Linked DNA regions of Homo sapiens: region 2 is linked to region 1. A link means that fine-mapping ties the variant in region 1 to the expression of a gene that starts in the linked region. Tissue or cell type: whole blood. Region 1 holds a variant in brackets; the other region holds the start of a gene. All regions are shown on one strand. Distances are between the middles of the regions.

Region 1 (8,724 bases):
ACCTTTATCATCTTTGATTTCTAGTGTCTGTACAGTGTATAACATTTATTATATGAATTACTGAATAAGAGTCTGAGTGAGCATGTTCATCTTTCTTGCCACCATACTCCAGGGTTTAGACGAGCATATCATGAAAAGTGATCTGAGAATAAAAGACACTATTCTTAGCATAAAAAAACTTCAAGTGACACTTTTCGGTAAAAGCTCAATTTCATTTGGGCCTTCCTTGGTTCCATTATTATTATTATTATTATTATTTGAGATGGGGCCTTGCTCTGTCACCCAGGCTGAAAGTGCAGTGGCGTGATCATGGCTCACTGTGGCTTTCACCTTTAGCCTCCAGAGTAGCTGGAACCATAGGTGCGTGCCACCACATCCAGCTAATTTACTTATTTATTTATATATATTTTTTGGTACAGATGAGGTCTCACTATGTTGCCCAGGTTGGTCTCAAATTCCTGGGCTCAAGCCAACCTTTCACTTTTGCCTCCCAAAGTGCTGGGATTACGGGTGTGAGCCACCATGCCTGGCTGGTTCCATTATTCATTTCTAGAGATGAAACAAGCAGAATGGGGTAGAATATTTAGATGGGGATATATCATAGTTTGTTGAAAGGAAGGACAGTGTTTTCAATTTAATTTTCCTTTAATTTTTGGCAATGCCCAATCTTCTATTGGCATATTGGCTGTAACCATTGAGGATTATTATTTTAGAGGAGTAGTTAATAATGACTTATCATTATCCTCTAAATACATTTTAAATGAAAGTACCTTGCTTTTGTTCGTGCTGAAACTCATGTGACACATTTTTCTCAACCTCCCTGTCTTATAATAACTTCCTCTGATTTATCCTCATGCATTTGGGTTTTCATCTCAAAGAAGAGCTGAGTGTCATCTACATTCCACTTTCTGCCTTCAAGTCTCATTTTCTTCATCTGTAAAATAGGATAATAATACATTACTCATAATTACTCATAGGATCGTTGGGAAGATTAAGCAATAAATCCATGTAAAATGCCTAGCATAATGTCTGATGTATAGTGGCATTCAAGAAATGTAAATTACATTTCTCTCTGTTATTGGGTCCTTTGATGATTGAATATGCCCACTGTTTTCTATTTTCTTTTTCTTTTGTTTTGTTGTTAGAACAAGATAAAACTCCTTGATAAACTGCAGACATATTCAACGGTTATTAGCGCTAACCATATGGGCATCAACATTCAGAATTAGAACAATGTAATAATATTGACCTAGTATTCAGTTAGCAATATTGACATACAGAAGATTGAGACCACCCTGGCTAACACGGTGAAACCCTGTCTCTACTAAAAATACAAAAAATTAGCCGGGCATGGTGGCGGGCACCTGTAGTCCCAGCTACTTGGGAGGCTGAGGCAGGAGAATGGTGTGAACCCCAGAGGCGGAGCTTGCAGTGAGCCGAGATTGTGCCACTGCACTCCAGCCTGGGCCACAGAGTGAGACTCCTTCTCAAAACAAATTAAATAAATAAACAAATAATAATAATAATGTTGACCTAATATTAGGTTGACCTATTAGTTTCAGATAAAGTTAGAGTTAGGTCAATATACATTACAACTAAGTTTAGGAATTAATCAATACGTAACTTCTCAGGATCTTCTCTCTTCAACTTTAGACAGGTTTTGATTAAATTAGTCAACAGAAAACTTTAAATATATTGAAATTTAGAAGTACATAAAAACTTGTAAATAAGCAACATTAGTTATGTTTAAAATAATCCTTTTGTCCAGGCACTGTGGCTTAGACTTGTAATCCCAGTACTTTGGGAAGCTGAGGTCAGTGGATCACTTAAGGCCAGGAATTCAAGACCAGCCTGGCCAACATGGTGAAACCCCAACTCTACTAAAAATACAAAAATTAGCTGGTTGTGATGGCGCACACCTGTAATCCCAGCTACTTGGGAGGCTAGGGCATGAGAATCACTTGAACCCGGGAGGTGGAGGTTGCAGTGAGCCAAGGTCTCGACACTGCACTCTAGCCTGGGTGACAGAGCAAGACTCTGTCTCAAAAATAAATAAATAAATACATAATAATAATCCTTTTATCCTTTTGTATAATCCATGTGCTATCCCCTGCTTTTTTTTCTTTTTTTCAAGCTTGTGGGAAGTGGTATGATTATGGACAGGCTATCAAACTTCTAAAAATGAGTTTTCAAACAACCTTTGTAGCTGGAATTAGATAGTTTGGTACCGATCATGCCTTGGCTACTATTAAAATTTCTAAAAGGGGCCAGCCTCAGTGGTTCACACCTGTAAGCCCAGCACTTTGAGTGGCCAAAGCAGGCAGATCATTTGACGTCAGGCGTTCAAGAACAGCCTGGCCAACATGGTGAAACCTTGTCTTTACCAAAAATATTAAATAACTTTTAAAATTGCAAAAACCACAGTTACTTTTGCATCAACCTATACAAAAACTAGCCAGGCATGGTGACACGTGCCTGTAGTCCCAGCTACTTGGGAGGCTGAGGCAGGAGAATCTCTCGAACGCAGGAGGTGGAAGTTGCAGTGAGCCAAGATCACGCCACTGCACTCCATCCTGGGCAACAGAGTGAGACCCTGTCTCAAATAATAATAATAATTGTTATCATCATCATCATCTAAAATGTTATAATCCCTAAAGATCTCCACATCTGATTCTCATATTTTGTAAGTTGCATCTGCACTGCCAGTAAGGTTTTGCTTTCAAATTGTTTAGTTTTGTTTTTGAGTCTTCAGACTTTAAAAAAATTAAACAAGTTATACTACACTGTGTTTGAAAAGAAAAAGAATATAAATGAAAAGGGAAGCCATAAATATCAGTCAACAGACATAGTTGAGAAATTTGGGGAACTCTAGGTCTATACAACTTTCCTAGATTGAACCCTGTAGTCTCAATTGATTTCAATGAGAATTTTTTGTCAAGTGAGGGATGATAATTTTTATATAGATCTCATTCTTACTTTTCCAAGTTTTCACTTTAATTCTGTAGTGGACTCAGTGTGGGTAATAGGCATATTAGATTCCACAAAATTGTGAAAGTTATTGGTCTGGATTTTATTTTAGAGTGCCAACTGTTGTGGTATTCACTTCTGTTTGAATCAACTATAGCGTATAATGTCAAAACAATACATTGGAACCAATAGCTCCCAGGGTAAAAATTATCCGTGTACAGATGGTGGGCAAGAGTGATTACTTAAATTCTAGATATATAAATACCATAAGTACATATTCAGAGTTATGAATGGAGTAAGGATTCCCACAGTATTAATCTAACTTCAACAAGCCACGCAAATAGAGTGAAACACAATCTGTTCTATACATTTTGCACACTCTCAATTGCTGTAACATGAGAAATGGTATTTTAAGGGTAGAAACCCTCAACTGCTTTGAGACCACAAAAGTCCATCAGTTTACAGCTGGAGGCTTCTATCTATTCAGAATGTTTGGTACTCTTACAAACAGTAGCCCCACCGTTAAAATTAATAGATTTTGTATCCTAGGGGGCAAAGTTCTTTAAAGTCATGACATGACTTTTGCTTTGGCCTTGATTTTCCTTTTATTTCTAAGGAGTTTCTGTAAAAGGATTCCTTTGTTAACATATACCATTTTCGTTATAATATAACATTAGTTTTTCCTCTGTATTTTCACAAAAGCAAAAAAAAAATTGTACAAGCCAATACTTATCCCTAAAATATATTTTTCTGATTACAAAGTATTGATGTTATTTCTGAAAAAATATAAAAAGTATAAAACAAAAAATAAAAATTACTCATAATACACATAGAGAATAACATTTTGGTGTCCATATTCCCATATAAAACACAGTCATATGTTGCTTAACGACAGGGTACAGTCTGAAAAAAGCATTGTTTGGTGATTTTGTCCTTGTGTGAACATCATAGAGTGCACTTACACAAACCTACATGGTAGAGCCTACTACACACTTAGGCTATATGGTATAGCCTATTGCTATACCATAGCACCATATAGGACTATGAATTGTCCTATAACTAAATATGGTACTAAGAACATAGAAGACAATAAATGCTTCAATTTATGATAATTAGGCATTGAGCAAAACTCTGATTTTCTATACCAGTTCTTCACAAGATGCCTATTAAATTGAGTTGAAACATTGATGGGATTGGTGTCTGCAAGAAATATTCTGGAAATACTAAATTTTATAATTTAATGTTAATAGGCTTTTAGTGTTGAGAGTAATGTATTTCTTGCTAAGTCATCAATAAACATCTAATTTAAAATACAATAAAAATAATTTATAAAATAGGTCATTACACTTATACAAGCTTGTTGAACAAAGGCTAGTAATATAATTTTTTAAGTACCATGAAAAGAGATCATACTGGTTCTGTGTGGTGGCTCATACTTGTAATCCCAGCACTTCGGGAGGCCGAGATGGGAAGATTGCTTGAGCTCAGGAGTTCAAGATCGGCCTGGGCAACATAGCAAGACCCCATCTTTAAAAAAATACAAAAAAATAGCTAGGCATGCTGGCACGCACCTGTAGTCCCAGCTACCTGTGGGGCTGAGGTGAGAGGATCGCTTGAACCCTGGAGGCGGAGGCTGCAGTGAGCCATGTTTGAGCCACTGCACTCCAGCCTGGATGACAAAGCAAGAACCTGTCTCAGAAAAAAAAAAGAGAGAGAGACAGTTTGTATCAAGTAGTCCAGAAGAAATAAAGCTGGAGACTAAAGTTTCAGTAGTGCTTTCTAGAACTTTTCAAGACAAGGTTATCTGTATAACTGAATTTGAGTATTTCACCAGGCATGAGAGCCAATCTCATGTGAAACACCGAATAGTCCCAAAGAACGTGAAAGGAATATCGTAATGAGGCAGAATAGGGTCTGGAGGCAAGGAACCTAAGGCTGATTCACCCTGACTTCCTAGAACTAAATCGAAAGAAAAACCCCAACTTTCTGCACCTACGTAACAAAAGGACCAGAAGCTACT[C/T]CCTTTGCAAACCCCAACCTTTTCTACACAGCAGATGGGAAACTGAAACTACCTCTGAGTGGTTACTTTTTGCAACCAATCAGACCTTTCCATAGGAATATAACATTGTAACTTCACTTCAGTGATTATGATTATGAGCCAAGGCTACATTTGCATAGAAGTGCAACTTTATAACTTCACTTTAGCCTCTGATTGTTTGCTTTCCACAACCAACCATATGTTTGCATAGGAGTGTGACCTTTGTAACTTGACTTCAGCCTCTGATTGCTTGCTGTCTGCAAGCAATCAGACTAATTGTGGACCACCACTTCATTTACATGTGGTGAACACCAAGTGGCCAATGGGAAACCTCTAGCGGGTATTTGGACCCAAGAAGGTTCTGTATCCAGAGCCTTTGAGCCGCTGTTGGGAGGGCTTCCACACCGTGGAGTGTATTTTCACTTTCAATAAATCTCTGCTTTCATGGCTTCATTGTTTCCTTGCTTTGCTGTGCGTTTTGCCCAATTCTTCAAAATGCGAAGAACCTGGGCAGCTTGCAGTCAAGAGCCTCTACTGGTAACAGTAACATGGGTTGTTTTTGTTTTGTTTTGTTTTTACAAGAGTAGGACTTTCCTCATACCCTAAGTCTTTGGTCATTAAGACACACAAATAAAACTGCATATCCTGCACTGATCATCAGCCAAGTATATTTACTAATTTCAATTAGAAGAATATAAACACCTTAACTGTCACAGTTAATTAGTATATTTGGAGATGGTGATGGAGAATGTTACGTAGAGAAAAAAAAACCAATTACTTATAGTGCAAATAGAGATTCTTAGAGGAGGGCTAAGGCAGAACTTCAAGATTAGTGTCAGATAAGGGATAAGAAGATAAAGAATAAGGGCCGGGTGCGGGACCTCACGCCTGTAATCCCAGCACTTTGGGAGGCGGAGGCGGGCGGATCACGAGGTCAGGAGATCGAGACCATCCTGGTTAACATGGTGAAACCCTGTCTCTACTAAAAATAAAAAAATAAAAATAAAAAATTAGCCGGGTGTGGTGGCGGGCGCCTGTAGTCCCAGCTACTCCGGAGGCTGAGGCGGGAGAATGGCGTGAACCCGGGAGGCGGAACTTGCAGTGAGCTGAGATCACGCCACTGCACTCCAGCCTGGGCGAGAGAGAGGGACTCTGTCTCAAAAAAAAAAAAGGGTTAATTTCATGCCAGGCACTGTGCATGACAATTGCAATACAAGTTAAATACTATAATAGAAGAAATAACAAAATTCTGTGAGGAGAAAGGAAGCTGTTCAGCCAGTGTGTCTACCTAGCCATTATTCCTTCTAAGCCAGCTGCTGCTATGTTAGTCATTTCACACAATTAGCTTTTGCTCCAATATATTTTTATTCCAACCTGACTCCGCTGGCAGATTCTGGACTCTAGGCTCCTTTACTCTGGCTCCAACCCTCTTCTGGCCTTTTGAACCTGGAGCTTGTCCCGTCTCCCTGCCATTTGATTCTTCTCTTTCTAATACATTGGCTTGGACTAGATTTCTTGAGTTTTGTATCTTCAGGTGCCTTGATAAAAGCGCAGATTCCTTTACTCTGTTTAAACCCTGGCTATAGTCACAGACTCTCTGAAAACCCCACCCGGTGTTCAGACAACTGTCTTCGTCTCACCCTAAGGCAATAGAAAACGAAATTCACGCTGGGCGCAGTGGCTCACGACTGTAATCCCAGCACTTTGGGAGGCCGAGGCGGATGGATCACCTAAGGTCAGGAGTTTGAGACCAGCCTTGCCAACGTGGAGAAACCCCATCTCTTAAAATACAAAATTAGCCGGTGTGGTGGTGGGCACCTGTAATCCCAGTTACTTGGGAGGTTGAGGAATGAGAATCACTTGAACCCAGGAGGCGAGGTTGCGGTGAGCTGAGATCGTGCCATTGCACTCCAGCCTGGGCAACAAGAGTGAAACTCCATCTCAAAAAAAAGAAGAAAAGAAAGAAAGAAAGAAATTCAAATGGCCCTTCACCATATGAAAAGACATTATCATAAGGCAGTTGCAAATTAAGGGTAACTGAAATAACATCCTGCACTTCTCAGATTACGAAAAAACAAAAGCGTAGCAATACACTTTGTTCAAGAGATTGTAGAAATAAATAAACTACTGTTGGAAGTGCAGAATCCACATCCCTTTGGGGGTGATTTAGAAGGCATTTCAATTGCACGTATTCTTCAACCCAGCACTATCACTTCTGGCAATTCATTCTAAAAATATGTTTGCATTTATACAAAATGACAAATTTACAAGGTCATTTATTGAGGCATTGCTTGTATAGCCATGAAGATTGGAAATAGCCCAAATGTCCATCCATAGCAGAATTTTCCAATCTCAGCACTAATTGACATTTTAGACCAGATAATTCTTTGTTATGGGACTGTTCTGTGCATTGTAGCATATTTAGTAGCATCTCTGGCCTCTACCTACTAGATGTGAGCAGCACTTTACTCCCAGACCAAAATGATTGTAGACAATGCCAAATGACCCCAGTCAGGGACAAAACCTCCCAGACTCTCTAATTGAGAACCACTTATATACAGATAACTGGTTAAATAATAATGGTATATTCACAAGTGGAATACTATGCAACTGTAAAAACAATGTGGAGCTTTCAATGTGCTAATATGGAATACTGATTGGATAATAAAAAGAATGGAAACAAGAGAAGAAAGAAAGCTACATTTTCATGATTACAAGGATGTGAGGAGATGGAGAGAGAAGACTGTATCTCCATTATCCATACACTTTTTTTTGTTGTTGTTGTTGAGGGAGTCTCACTCTCTCTGTTGCCCAGGCTGGGGTGCAGTGGCGTGATCTCAGCTCACTGCAACCTCCGCCTCCTGGGTTCAAGTGATTCTCCTGCCTCAGTCTCCCAAGTAGCTGAGATTACAGGTGCCCACGACCATGCCTGGCTAATTTTTTTGTATTTTAGTAGAGACGGGGTTTCACCATGTTGGTCAGGCTGGTCTCTAACTCCTGACCTCAAATGATCCACCCTCCTTGGCCTCCCAAAGTGCTGGGATTACAGGCATGAGCCACAGTGCCCGGCATCCATAATGCTTTTTAAAGTATATTCTAGATAACTTAAATTTTTAGCTGTGTGAAAAGTAAGGCTACAATTTTCATCCAGAATGTTCAAGATAAATAGTGAAGCTATAGAGAGCAAAAAGTAATTTTAAAACAATAATTCTCATACAAACTAAAGTTATTTCCAGAAAGTGTTGGAGGGTTGATTGCATTTGCTTATAACAGGTTCTTGTGCTACTGTGAAGAATTGTTCAGAGATCTGTTCTGGAATCTATTAATAATGAGTTATAGAAGTTATAAAGTTATATCTTTCCAATGCATTTTAATTTCCTTTTGAAAATACTTTATTATTTAAGGTTCTAGGCCAGAAAGGAATCAAGCTGCTGCCCTATGTTGCCAAGGATCTAAAACCATCCTCCAGTTGTGACTCAAATAAGAACTACTTCATAGGAGAAAAAAAATACATCCTGCTGATAACATATATCAGTGACAATGTCACACTAAGTGTCCATCTCTGATTAATCCTGCAGCCGAACCTGAGCTCCATGGAGATCTGTTTATTCCTCTATTCATTCAGCATCATGTTTAAATGCATACTGTGTATGAGGGATAATGTCAGGTACTGAATACAGTCCCAGCCATGAATGACACATTTCTTGCTTTCAAGGAGG
Region 2 (7,228 bases), 35 kb before region 1:
TCGTTCATGGAAGTGTCGACTAACTAAAACAGCAGTTAAGTTTTACTTTCAGAACCATCAAGCTACAGATGTTGGTCATGGCAACTCCTCAGAGGCAAATTTCTCTGTTAAAATATAGATTAACAATATACTGTCAGTTTCCTCAAGTCAGATGTAAAGATTATGCTGAAAAATGATTAAAGCAAATTATCCTTCAAAGATCCCACAAAAAGGAATATTTATAATCCATGAAATCAAAGAGTTAATGACCCACAGTAAAATACACAGAATGTCTTTCCTAACAGAGCTTTGAGGCAACGGGGATGATTTAAAGAACTATTAAATATAATTGTGTCATCTAGAAAAAAGGCTTAACAAGATGATTTCTGTACAACTAGTTCTAAAACTGTGTATGCATTTCATCCTGATAGTTACACATTTCCGTTAATACCCACTAACATTATAAATGTAGTATCAGGAAGCAGGTGTGTTCTTAATTCAAATATTTAGAACATTTTTAGCACTTTAAAAAACTGCAGGTGAACTAATTTTAAAATGTGAATTCAAATACATTTTTATATTTAGGAATCTGAAAAAACAAGTCATTTTGTATTCCCTCTCAAGTTATAACTAAACTATAGGGCACTTAAAGCCATCAGTCAAAACAACTCCCTTTAAAGCATTTTCAAATCTTAAAAAGGTTATTGTGAATTTAATTACATTTTATCCACATTAACTACTTCTACATACAACTATCTTTGAAATTTACTGACAAAAAAAAAAAAAAAAGGAATTCCCAAGAGAGAATGAAACCATGGAAATTGAAACCAGCTTGTAGGCTAGGTATACAGGAGGGTCACATGGAATCCATCTGAAGGAGAAAGTAACTACTATTACTACCGGAGGTTCTGAAGTCAAATTAAATCAGGTACTATTTACATATTTCTAGCTCTGTACTGACCTCACATGGTGCCTTCCTATGTATTACACACAGGCCTAGCTAGGTTTTCACATTTAAGTTAGTGTTACATGGTTTCTATCTTTAACCAAAGTTAAATGTTTTAAAGAATAGAGTAACATTCCATAAGCCTTTTCCCATTGTTCACAAACCCTTGCTGTTAGTCAGATTACCCCGATAAATCCATCTGTTCCCTCTAATTGCTTCCAAAGAAAAATTCTAGCAACCAAGGACACCAGATTGTAAAACACAGAGTTAGAGTTCTGGCACTACCGAAATATGTTAAGAAATCTTGGCAAATTGGTTAAAATTCCTTGAGCCGTAATTACCTCAGTTGTAAAAATGAATACAATACAAATCTACATCCTAGACGTAGATTATATGAGTTAGGTTTAATTAAACACAAGAAAAGCCTCATATTTTTGGTGAGCTCCAAATATAAGCTACCTAGCTTTCCCCCATCTCACTTTCCCTCCCACCGCTTCCCTTTAAGCTTTCAGGTTGTGCTTCCAACCTCCACTTCAGTGTGTTCCCCTTATCCTTACCAGCACTTACACTCGACCCCCTTTACTCCAATTCCATACAATTCCACCCTCCGATTCCAAGCTGCTACTTCCCTTTGCGCACTGCTAAGGTCCCAGGCAGCCCTCCACTCTGCTCCCCACATTTCCCTCAGCCCCCATTTCCCAACGGCTCCTCCTCTCGGCTCCCCACCCCCTCGTCACCAGGTTCATCCTGCCCCTCCAACCGTCTCCCGCCCCCAGGTTCCTTCCTGCCCTCCAAACACAGCTTCCCCGTCTCAACGTTTCATCTTGTTCCTCCAACAGACTCCCCCAACGACCTCCTCGCTCCTTTAGTCCCTATTTTCTCCCAACACTCAACTGACTACTCCTCTTCATCCATTCTTTTCAATATACACATAAATGCAAAGGCACCCACATACAGGAGCCCCCACCCCCACCTTGGTCCTCCATCTTTCCCTTTTATACTTGCTTCCTTTCTTCCTCCTTCCCCCAACCCCCATCTCCTCCGGAAGAGTCGGTTCCCAGGCCAAGGTCTCTCACCTCATTCGGTCACTTCAGTGGTGCCAACCGCTTCATACAGGAAAAAACAACCAATCCGTCCCCGTGGGCGCTTCCCCTGCGAGTCCGAGCACTTACTGGGCACCCGCCCCACCGGGTACCCGGCACATATGCACGCACAAACCGAGGTCCTTGGAGACAAGGGTTGGGGGTAGAATGAGCGTTCTTACACCGGCCTCAAACACAGCCCACTTCAATACAGCCCCTCGCCATTTTGGTTTCCCGCGGACTGCCGGTGCATTCTGGGAGCGCGGAGCGACTCCGGTGCCGAATGGCAGCTCTCCAAAGCCGCGGGGGGGCAGGGACTGCGCGGCGAGCGCGGAGGAACACCGCGCCCTGCGTCCCCGACTGGGGCTGAACAAAGAAGGACTCTTTAACGTTGCAGTGAGGCTCAGTCCTTCCGCCGCCGGGGCTAACACAATAGTGAAAGCTGCGCTCCTGATCGTCGGCAGGCTGGCACTGTTATACAGGAAAAGGGTCGTGTGCGACCTTCGGTGTGCGTGGTCGTAACGGTGCTCTGTGCATCTTGCTGGGCCGATTTCTTTTCCCTGGAGAAAACCTTAACTGAAGCACGTTTCCTCTACTTTCATCCTAAGGCCTGCTGTTAGAATTTCCTTCAGAGGGGAGAAGACCCAGGATGTCGAGATTAAATTTTATTCAGCGATTCACTGTCCAGTCCCAAACTCCTTATCAGGAGCTGCTTTTATGAAAGACTTTCAGACGATTTTTTTCCTAACGATGAAAGGTTGTTTTCTGTTTACCCGCTTTGCAGTCCTTCCTAGTTGTAATGAAATCTGAGAATAGTCCCCTGCAAAATGGTTTAAGAAAACAGAATTGTTTATTAGTGCAGACCCTTAGCCTGCCCAGATTCTGCTGCCTACAGGGGTCCCAACTGACAAGCTGTGAGATTGTATGCTTGTCTCTTTAACTTACACCTAGATACAACCCAGCTCCTCTTAGTAGCCACGTGTGGAATCTTTATTTATAATTTCGTCAAAATATTTTTAAAGCCATTTTATATTTTTGTCCCATATTATGCCACAGGGATAGTGAACACCATATTTTTTCTGTCTCTGAAAAAGTACCTTTTGTGGTCTAAGCTCATTTGGCTCATACTTCAAAAGGGGTTCCCTCAGCCTGTGATCTCAGAATTTGGCAAATAAGCATATTCGTTTTATCCAATACCATTCAATACTTTAAATATTGTGGTCATACCCTTCCACTCCTCTGCTTCTCCTGAATAATAGTCCTAATCTTTTAAGTCTGTCTTCTTACTGTACCCTCACTGTATCTACTTACCTACTACCTTTCAGGTTTCACTTTATTTCAATTCTCATCATCGTCTCTCATAAATTCGTCTTAAGTGACCTTCATACGTTGGCTGAGGAAAATTTTGACTTAAAAAAAGCAGATGCAGCCGGGCGCGGTGGCTCACACCTGTAATTCCAGCACTTTGGGAGGCCGAGACAGGCAGATCACCTGAGGTCGGGAATTCGAGACCAACCTGATCAACTTGGAGAAACCCCGTCTCTACTAAAAATACAAAAATTAGCCAGGTGTGGTGGCACATGCCTGTAATCCCAGCTACTCGGGAGGCTGAGACAGGAGAATCGCTTGAACCCAGGAGGCAGAGGTTGTGGTGAGCCAAGATCGTGCCATTGCACTCCAGCCTAGGCAACAAGAGCAAAAACTCCATCTCAAAAAAAAAAAAAAAAAAGTAGATGCATTCCCATTCAGGAACGTGGCATTAAGGTAAATAAATAAATAAAATATTAAAAAGTAGATGCAGTACAAAAATTAATAAAGATATTGCACAAACAGATATATTTGCTGTGCAGCTAAGCCTAATCAGAGAACATCTGTTTTGGAGAACGTTTGGTCTAAGTTTTCCTCAACATTTCTGTAAAGTGGTCACCAAGCCTCAACTTCAAAATCTTCAGTGATTCAATACTTCAGACGCATTCATTTCCACCTCAGAAACTCTAATAATTTAGGCTCTTTGGCTACACAAAAGTATTCTAATCCCTTATACATTAGAGAAGTAAATTATGCCTCTATCAAAAAAAAGTGTTATTTTTCTGTGCAAACGTGTGAGTACAAAGGTGTAAGCAAACCAAGTGTTCAGAGATTTAAGGACACTCAGGGAGTCACAGTCAAGTATAAAGAATACCTGTCAGCCAGCCACCAGCAACTCACTCCTGTAATCCCAGTACTTTGAAAGGCCAAGGTAGAAGGATCACTTGAGCTGGGGAGTTCCAGACCAGTATGCAGTCTGAGCCACATAGTGAGACCCTGTCTCTACAAAAAATTTAAAAATTAGCTGGGCCCCTGCCTGTAGTCCCAGCTATTCAGGAGGCTGAGGTGGTAGGCTTACTTGAGCCACAGTGAGACTGCCTCAAAAAAAAAAAAAAAAAAAAAAAAAACCTGCTGTAGTTGTGGTTCCTCGGAAATATAGAGTGAACTCTGATCAGAGTAAACTGTACCCTTTATTGTTGTATGTATTTCTGTGATCATCCTTAGGGTGGTTCATAAGTATTCTGGTTCCCCTCTCTTCCAGACACATAGTAAAATTGCACTCTGGCCGGGCGCGGTGGCCACGCCTGTAATCCCAGCACTTTGGGAGGCTGAGGGGGGCAGATCACTTTAGGCCAGGAATTCCAGACTAGCGTGGCCAACATGGCAAAACTCTGTCTCTACTAAAAATACAAAAATTAGCCGGGCGTGGTGGTGCATGCCTGTAATCCCAGCTATTTGGGAGGCTGAGGCAGAGAATCACTTGAACCCAGGAGGCCGAGATTGCAGTGAGCCAAGATTGCACCGCTGCACTCCAGCCTAGGCGACAGAGGGAGACTCTGTCTCGAAGAAAAAAGAAAAAAAAATTTGCACTTTCTTGCACCCCTGAAGTTAATTGCTTTGACCAATAAAATGGGTGACATGTATCACTTCTCAGGAGAATCTTTAAGAAGCAGAGACACATCTCCCTCCCCCATGCTATGGTAATCATGGAAGCTTGGGTTGAGATAGAATGTCTGTCGCTTTCAGTTCCTAAATGTCTACAATAAGCAGTGACTAGAATTGTGCAATCATCACCACAATCCACGTTTAAAACATTTCCATCACCCCCAAAAAATTCATTATGCGCATTTGCAGTCAACCCTCCTTCCAAGCCCTAGGCAATCTGCTATCTGCTTTCTGACAATTTCATATAAATGGTTTCATACAATAAGTAGTCTTTTGCATCTGGGTTCTTTCACTCAGAATATTTTTTAGGTTCATCTACGTTGTACCAGTCAGTAGTTATTTCTTTTTATTGCCAAATAGACTCCATTTGAATGAATGTACTACATTTTGTTTATCCATTCGCCAGTTGAAGGACATTTATGTTGTTTTCAATCTGGGGCTATTATAAATAAGACTGCTATGAACATTTGTGTACAAATCTTTGTATGGACATTCGTTTTTTATTTTTCTTGAGTAGATCCCTAGAAGTGGAATTACAGAGTTGTATGATAAGTTTATGTTTAACATTTTAAGATACTGCCAAACTGTTTTCCAAAGTGTAAGCAATATGTAAGCCTTCCAGTTTCCCAATATCCTCACTGATACTTGTCTATCTTTCTGATTTCACTCATAACAGTAGGGATTGCTAGGCATGGTGGCTCACACCTGTAATCCTAGCACTTTGGGAGGCCAAGGCTGGAGGATTGCTTGAGCCCAGAAGTTTGAGACCAGCCAGGGCAATACAGTGAAACCTTGTCTCTAAAAAAATAATAATTTTTTTTTTTTTTAGATGGAGTCTCTCTCTGTCACCCAGGCTGGAGTGCAGTGGCACAATCTTGGCTTACTGCAACCTCTGCCTCCTGAGTTCAAGCGATTCTCCTGCCTCAGCCTCCTGAATAGCTGGGATTACAGGCACGTGCCACCACGCCCGGCTAATTTTTGTATTTTTAGTAGAGACTGGGTTTCACCATGTTGGTCAGGCTGGTCTCAAATTCCTGACCTTGTGATCTGCCTGCCTCGGCCTCCCAAAGTGCTGGGATTACAGGCATGAGCCACTGCACCTGGCCAAAAAAAAAAAAAAAATTATTATAATAATTTAAAACAGTGGGAGTGAAGTGGTTCATTGTGGTTTCCCTAATGGCTAGTGCTATTGAGCATCTTTGGTTTGTTAGCCATTCTTATATCTTCTTTAGTGAAGTGCCTACTCAAATATTTTATGTATTTTTTAACTGGACAATCTTCTTATATCAACTTGTAAGAGTTCTTTATATATTCTAGATTTAGGTTCTTTAACAGAAGCATGATTTGCAAATATTGTCTTCCTGTCTATGACTTTATGACTTGTCTTTTCATTTTTCATAATGATGTCTTTTCTTTTTCCCCCAGAAACAAGGTCTCACTCTGTTGCCCAGCCTGGAGTGTAGTGGCACTGATCATAGCCCACCATAACCTCAAACTCCTAGGCTCAAGCAATCCTCCCATATTAGCTTCTCAAGTAGCTGAGACTACAGGTGCACACCACCACTCCCAGCTAATTTTGTTTTAATTCTTTTAGAGATGGGATCTCTATATGTAGCCCAGGCTGGCCTGGAACTCTTGGCCTCAAGCCATCCTCCCACCTCAGCCTCTCAAGTAACTGGGATTACAGGTGCAAGCCACCCTTGCCAGGGCTTAATGTATTTTGAAGGGAAAAAAATTTATTTTAAGTTCAATGAAATCCTATTTATCTTTTTTTAAATACCATATGCTTTTGGTGTTATAACTAAGAATTATTTTACCAAAGTCTATTTTCTATTATGTTTTCTTCAGAAGTTTATAGGTTTAGCTCTTATATGTAAGTCTATGATCCATTTCGAGTTATTTTTTGTGCACAGTGTGAGAGGTATAGGTCTGTATTAATCTTCTTGTGGCTGGGTGTGGTGGCTTCTGCCTGTAATCCCAACACTTTGAGAGGCTGAGGTGGGAGGATTGCTTGAGCCCAGGAGTTTGAGACCACCCTGGGCAACATGGCAAAACCCTGTCGCTACAAAAAATACAAAAAAAAAAAATTAACTGGGCATGGTGGTGTGCACTTGTAGTCCCAGGTACTTTGGAGGCTGAGGTGGGAGGATCAATTAAGCCTGGGAGGTTGAGGCTGCAGTGAGCTGTGATCTTGCCACTGAGCAGTAGCCTGGGCAACAAAGCAAGACCCTGTCTCAAAAAAAATTTT

The links. PIP is the estimated chance that this variant, and not a neighbour inherited with it, causes the effect.
Region 2: MTF2 starts here. The variant in region 1 is fine-mapped to the expression of MTF2 in whole blood (TOPMed, PIP above 0.99). The same link has a PIP of 0.9 or more in monocytes after R848.

What each region holds. Positions count from the first base shown.
Region 1 is chr1:93,038,889-93,047,612 of GRCh38, reverse strand. No RefSeq gene overlaps it. Among named protein-coding and RNA genes, the nearest start is that of MTF2, 36 kb to the left of the region's middle. RefSeq lists an enhancer at 4,861-5,120. The variant C/T (reference allele first, on the strand shown) is at 4,988.
Region 2 is chr1:93,074,305-93,081,532 of GRCh38, reverse strand. MTF2 (metal response element binding transcription factor 2) reads right to left here and starts at 2,250. Exons shown (of 15, transcript NM_007358.4): 1 at 2,002-2,250. The coding sequence starts at 2,006. RefSeq lists enhancers at 2,207-2,501, 2,438-2,687.